Linked DNA regions of Homo sapiens: region 2 is linked to region 1. Evidence: fine-mapped expression QTL. Tissue or cell type: monocytes after interferon gamma. Region 1 holds a variant in brackets; the other region holds the start of a gene. All regions are shown on one strand. Distances are between the middles of the regions. Region 1 overlaps KIAA0040. Region 2 holds the start of KIAA0040.

What was found. PIP is the estimated chance that this variant, and not a neighbour inherited with it, causes the effect.
Region 2: KIAA0040 starts here. The variant in region 1 is fine-mapped to the expression of KIAA0040 in monocytes after interferon gamma (Fairfax 2014, PIP 0.95).

What each region holds. Positions count from the first base shown.
Region 1 is chr1:175,159,419-175,162,330 of GRCh38, reverse strand. KIAA0040 reads left to right here. Exons shown (of 4, transcript NM_014656.3): 4 at 1,185-2,912. The coding sequence starts at 1,318. The coding sequence ends at 1,617. Among named protein-coding and RNA genes, the nearest start is that of KIAA0040, 32 kb to the left of the region's middle. The variant G/A (reference allele first, on the strand shown) is at 1,521.
Region 2 is chr1:175,191,305-175,194,216 of GRCh38, reverse strand. KIAA0040 reads left to right here and starts at 1,441. Exons shown (of 4, transcript NM_014656.3): 1 at 1,441-1,577. RefSeq lists enhancers at 779-888, 1,609-1,758, 1,999-2,048, 2,189-2,238.

The DNA.
Region 1 (2,912 bases):
TCCTTAAGTGAGAGAGTTCATTGGGATGATCTCTGGAGTGTCCATCCTGAAAATCAACCACTCCTTAATATTTGGGTCCTGGAGAATGTCTTACACCAACAGGCCTCTTAAATTTCCTTGAATCATGCCTGTCCTTGAAGTCTTGTTTGTACACAAGAACCTGTAATTCCAGAATGGAAGGCAGCCTCTAAGACCTTATACTTGAGAGCTGAGCTTTAAGATATATGTGGAGGGGTGACCAGGGAAGAGGGGCAGCTCTGTACAAGCAACCAGGAGAATGGCCCCAGCTGTATGCTGAGTTCAGAACAGGAACAGGGAGGCACCCAGGAACCTCACTCTGGTTTCCAAGCACCATCACTAAGCAGCCTGCAAGGACTCCTCTCCCATAGAGAAGAAAGAGAGCAGGAGACTTTGGAGTATTTGGTCAAGGAATAGAAAACATAGAGAAGGGTAATGAGGAAGAGGAAGGTAGAAGGTAGAAAGTGGAAAGCCAGCAAATGGTCACCCCTGGTTCTCTCAGCCTTGGGAGGAGAGGACTTCTCAGGCACAGGAATGTGATATAAGGAGGGGAGGAGACATGGAGCAGGGAAGAGATCATGAGGGGACAGCACGGAAAGCAGGCATGGGGCAGGATGAGGACTGATGACCTCTTAGCCCAGAGGAGACCCAGGTTCCCTACTACAGACAGCAAGAAGTAGACATCTCACTTTGTGCTTAAGCTTCAATAAGCTTTGAAAATGGCAAGTTATGTTAATAAAAGGTTACATACAGACCTGTCCTGTGGGGAGTGTGTGTTCAACATCTGTCAGGTGAGCTACAGTGGAAAAAAGATTGAGAACTGCTGTTGCAGAAGGGTCCAGGGAAGCAACCCCTTATCAGAACACTGAACACACACATTGATTCATTTATCCAACAACTACTGAGAACTTCCTACGTGCCAGACCTGATATACTATTCATTTTTATATCCTAAGCCCAATATAATGTGTGTACATAGCAAGAATTAGTTGATGCTTATTGATTACATGCATGCATTTATCTTGTTTATTGAGTCAATACAAGTTTACTGAACCCTGGAAATCTTCAATTCCTTCCCCTTTCCTAAGCCTAAAATCTATGACACTATTAAAATTGTAGACCAGTCCCCCTGCATTTCTCTTCAGTTGTCTGTTTTAATCTCTTCAGGTGCTGCCAGTGGCATGCCCAAACCCAAAGCTGGAAGAGGAATAAATTACAAGTGGTCAAGGTTGCATCCTTTTGAGCCCAGGACCTGCTTGTAAGCCGAGAGGGTTCTCTGGCCCTAATCTAGCCAAGCACCATGGAGAGAATCAGTGCCTTCTTCAGCTCTATCTGGGACACCATCTTGACCAAACACCAAGAAGGCATCTACAACACCATCTGCCTGGGAGTCCTCCTGGGCCTGCCACTCTTGGTGATCATCACACTCCTCTTCATCTGTTGCCATTGCTGCTGGAGCCCACCAGGCAAGAGGGGCCAGCAGCCAGAGAAGAACAAGAAGAA[G/A]AAGAAGAAGAAGAAGAAGAAGGATGAAGAAGACCTCTGGATCTCTGCTCAACCCAAGCTTCTCCAGATGGAGAAGAGACCATCACTGCCTGTTTAGTTAGGCAGGAAGCAGAGGTGTTTCCTTTCTGGGGCTAAGCCTCCTTCTGACCACACACAGACATTTCAGGAACCCCTGAAATAATGCACTATGTCCATGTCCACAGAGTAACTACTCAACCAAGGAACAAACCTCAGACTAAGTGTCCCAGTGGAGGGCAGTCCCAGGGACCACGTGGACAATTCTTGGATACTGTCTTGGCAGCTATGTGTCCAATAGCAATGCTCCTTACTGCAGACCCAGGCATGCCTCCCACCTGTCTCTGGCATACCCCACATGCAAAGCACAAAGAACATTTATCCATACATCTCAATATGGTTCCCAAGTGTGTGCACATGCACGTAACACACACACACACAAATTCAGGTAGCAGGTACGTGGGCAAGTATATTCTGCTCATCAAATGGTCATTGGCTATGTACTTTGTGCAGGGAAGTACATTATCTACAGTCACAAAAATGTCTCATGGGAAAGCCTTGCCAGATTCAGACACATATATACAATTTCCTAACCAGCAAGGCCCCCATACACCATCTATTCCATAAACCACTCAGGTTACAGATGCATGCTTTCCTATTTCTAACTCTACACATAAACTTTTACTGGAAGTACTCATAATTGGACATTCCAGCAACCTGCTACAGTCCCCACCCTTGTGTGTCTTGATACAGACACACCAAGTTTCTGTGCCTCTGACCCCTCACCTGTGCCAAGATGTTTAAAGTGTGATGGTTCAAAATTCATTGAAAGCTCTTTTCTTGTAACTCATGACAAAGTCCGTCCTCATTGCCACTGAGAGGTGTTTAATGTGATCCAAGACCTCTCTGTGAAACATTACCCCCGCAAACCACTCAGCAAAGTGCCTTTCTCCAAGCAAGAACAAAGAGCTCTTGGTGGTGACTGCTAGAAAATTATGGAAGCCCACTCATTTATGTCAGTGGACTGCAACTGTGTACCTGTGCAATGTTTACAGATGGAAAGGGTGAGGAGATGCTACACCTGAGCTAGGTATCTCCTATATAACCAAAGTTTCCAGCAGGGAAGGAACTAGACAATCATCAGTGCAGTCTCACAGAAGGCAACACTGGAAGTGATGTCATAAGGTTGTGATGTGTGCACGGTATGGCACAGGTGGGATGCAGAGGTAACAGAGTTTAAATGAAAGTAGGATGAAGCTATAAAGAGGTTTATTTATATTTATATTGAAGCTCAGGCAAGTGCCTTGCACACAGTAGGTACTTATAACTAACTGTGGTTACTGTTGGATATGTGATGTTGTTAAGGGTAAGCTTGTA
Region 2 (2,912 bases), 32 kb before region 1:
GGTAGACAACTGCAGGCTCAAAGTGTCATTACAGATTTGAGCTTCTCCCGGCTTGTGAATCTAGTCTTCCTCTGTAAAAAATAAATAAATAAATAAATAAATAACTTATTTTCCTCTTTTTCTAGCCATTTTTGGCGTTTCAGGCTGGATGGTGGGTTTTCTCTTTGGCCTTTCAACTCAGAGCCACGTGGTTTCTCCTGAATAAACAGAAAGGAATCTCTTGAATCTCAGTTGTGACAGTTGGTTGCAGCAGTCATTTTAATGCCCACTTGGAGAAGCCAAAGGACACCCATACTCAGGCACAGTCGATGGAGGGCAAGTCCTGGTTCAGCACCTGGCACCTGGTACCTGTGTACCTGGCAAATACAGTCGAGGGAACAGCATTTCAGGCCCTTGTCAGGGAGGACCTCCCAGGATGACACTGAGGAGGCCCCTGAAATGATCCACAGCCAGGTCCTGGCATCCCCCTCTTTTCCCACCCACAGTATCCCTGGAGGCACTGAACAAGCTCTGAATCATCAGAGCTTTGTGTCTGGAGTCCCCTATTCAAAGGGGCGCAGGTCTTTTCATTTCCTAGCATCCCATGTGCTCGGAACTAGAGCCAAGAGATCTGAATAGAAAGTAGATGGAGAGCAGCTGAGGATGAGAGGGAAGAACCCCTGAGAACTTTTTGAAGTCAGCTTTCCCCTCCGTCATTTGCTTGTGACAGACAGCTCCTGGGGCGCAGTTTTCCTTAGCGCCTCCAGGCAGCAGAGACAAAGACTCTTCTGAGATGTCACCTGCACCCCTTGGAGCAACCGGCGTTGGCTAGAGGGGACTGTCATGCTCATTTGTCCCGATAAGACATCGGAGCCTTCACCCAACCTGCCGCATGGTATCCCTCTCCAACGCCTCCCACCCCTTCCAGGAAGGCCCTCTATTTAGGCAGCTGTTTTCCCTGAAGCCGGGTTTGCCCGGAGTTCTGTGTCCCATTCCTGGAACACTGGTGCGTCTGTGAGAGACACCGGGGCTGGCTCCGCAGCCGCTGTGTCCTGAAGGAGGCGTGTTCCGGGACTGAGGGGGCAAGGACACGTAATGGCGGGGGGCGGGGAGTGGGGAGCCACCGGCGGGAAGACGGGGAGGGAGGGCGCGTCTGGGGCGTGTGCGCCCAAGGCCAGAGGCACCCGAGGTGGGCTGGCCCAGGGTGGAAAGCCTGGGCCGAGCCCCTGGAGCGGGCGGAACGGCGAGCCAGATTCAGGAAGTTGTGCCTGTGACATCAGGGGCAGGACAGAGTTGGAGCGAAACCTCAACTATGCCAGGCGTCGGCCCGTAGGAAGGCAGGGAACACAGAGGGCGCTGCCCTCGGCGGCAGCGGCAGGTACGCGCGGGGGTGGAGCGGGGCGGGGCGGGGCGGGGCGGGCGGCTCCCACGACCTTGGCCGGCGCCGGGGCCCTACACGCCAGACCTGGCTCGGGGTGGGAGTGCAGAGGCAACCAAAAAGGAACCCACACCTCCCTCCAGGGCCCGGGGCGCTGTCAGACGGGGCAGCAACCAGGAGATTCCCTGGGCCTGCAGGAAGCCCTTCCGCGGACCGAAAGGTGAGTTTCAGGACTTTCTGTTATGTTTTTTAAAAATACATTTTTAAGCGCCCTCTGTTTGGAAGAAGACGCCCAGTCACTCCTGTCTTTAGAAGGATGAGACCTGCCCCAGAGATACAAGGAATTATTCCTAAGTAGCCTCTTGCGCCTTCACAACTTTAGTTCTGGTGTGTTTCCCTCCTTCGCGAGGACTCTCAGGAGTCTTCCTCTCTGCGCCTGGGCTGAGTCCACATGAACTCCTCGGAGGTCGGCGGTGGAGTTACCTTACTCCAGCTGCCGGTAGGAGCGCTTTGAAGGGGACACATGGAAATTCTGTTTTTTACTGAGAAAGCTAAGGCCTGAGACCCTCCGGAAAGCATCGCGGGCTTAGGTGTTTCTAAACCATTCTAGGTGAAGCCAGATTTTCTCTGGAGCTAAGGAACTAGCCAAAACGAAAATATGGCGTGGAGCCAGGGGCGGAGAGGAAACCTGTTTGCTATTCTGAGAGTTTCCAGGGAGCTTGCTGTGACACAGATTACTTCCTAACTTCTTTGACTCTCAGTGGTCCCACCCCCAGACCCCCCATCCCACCCATGAAGGTAGAGTGGGGGACATAATAGGACCTGTTTCCCTAACATTCTGAAGAGCTTTACGGGATTCATCATATGATAATAGAGTTAAGTAAACTATAGATGATAGCTAGTGGGAAGACCAGTCCTGCCTAACCGAAAGGGAAACTGAAGCACAGACAAGCACTCACCCTAATTTAACAGAACACCGGCAGCCAGCATGCCATGCTACTTAGCGGGATTGTGCCACCGATTGCGTTATACGAGGAAGGGAAGGAAAAGACCACTGGAGCATCTTGGAAGCTCCTCCCTTCTAAAGCAGTTGCATTTCATTTGCTCAGCTACAGCTCATAAGGACCTGAAGCTAATTTTAAGGAACCCTCATTCTGAAGTTCTGTTAGATAATGGGAGAGCCTTGAGTTACAAAGAGCAGGACTTAAACATAGCATTGATGCAACCTGTTCCTAACCCTTTTGCAAATGGTTTGCAAGTTCTATCTAAAGACTTCTGCAAGCGTCTTACCAGCCTTTAAACTGGTTCAGTTGCATCAACCACTTAGTCTGATGTGCCTGCCCTTCACCCAGTGCTGGGCTGGAGAGGCAGCTGTACAGGAAAATCTGACCAAGTCTTTCCTTTTGTCTGAAATTCTGCCTCTCTGTCCCCATCCCAGATACAATTTTAGGAAAGAGATGCGTTGTAAAACAAAAGTTTCTTTGGCCTCCATGCATTGTCAATATTTGGCCTGTGAAATGAGTATGACTTCTGTCCTCTTCCCTAAAGACTAAAC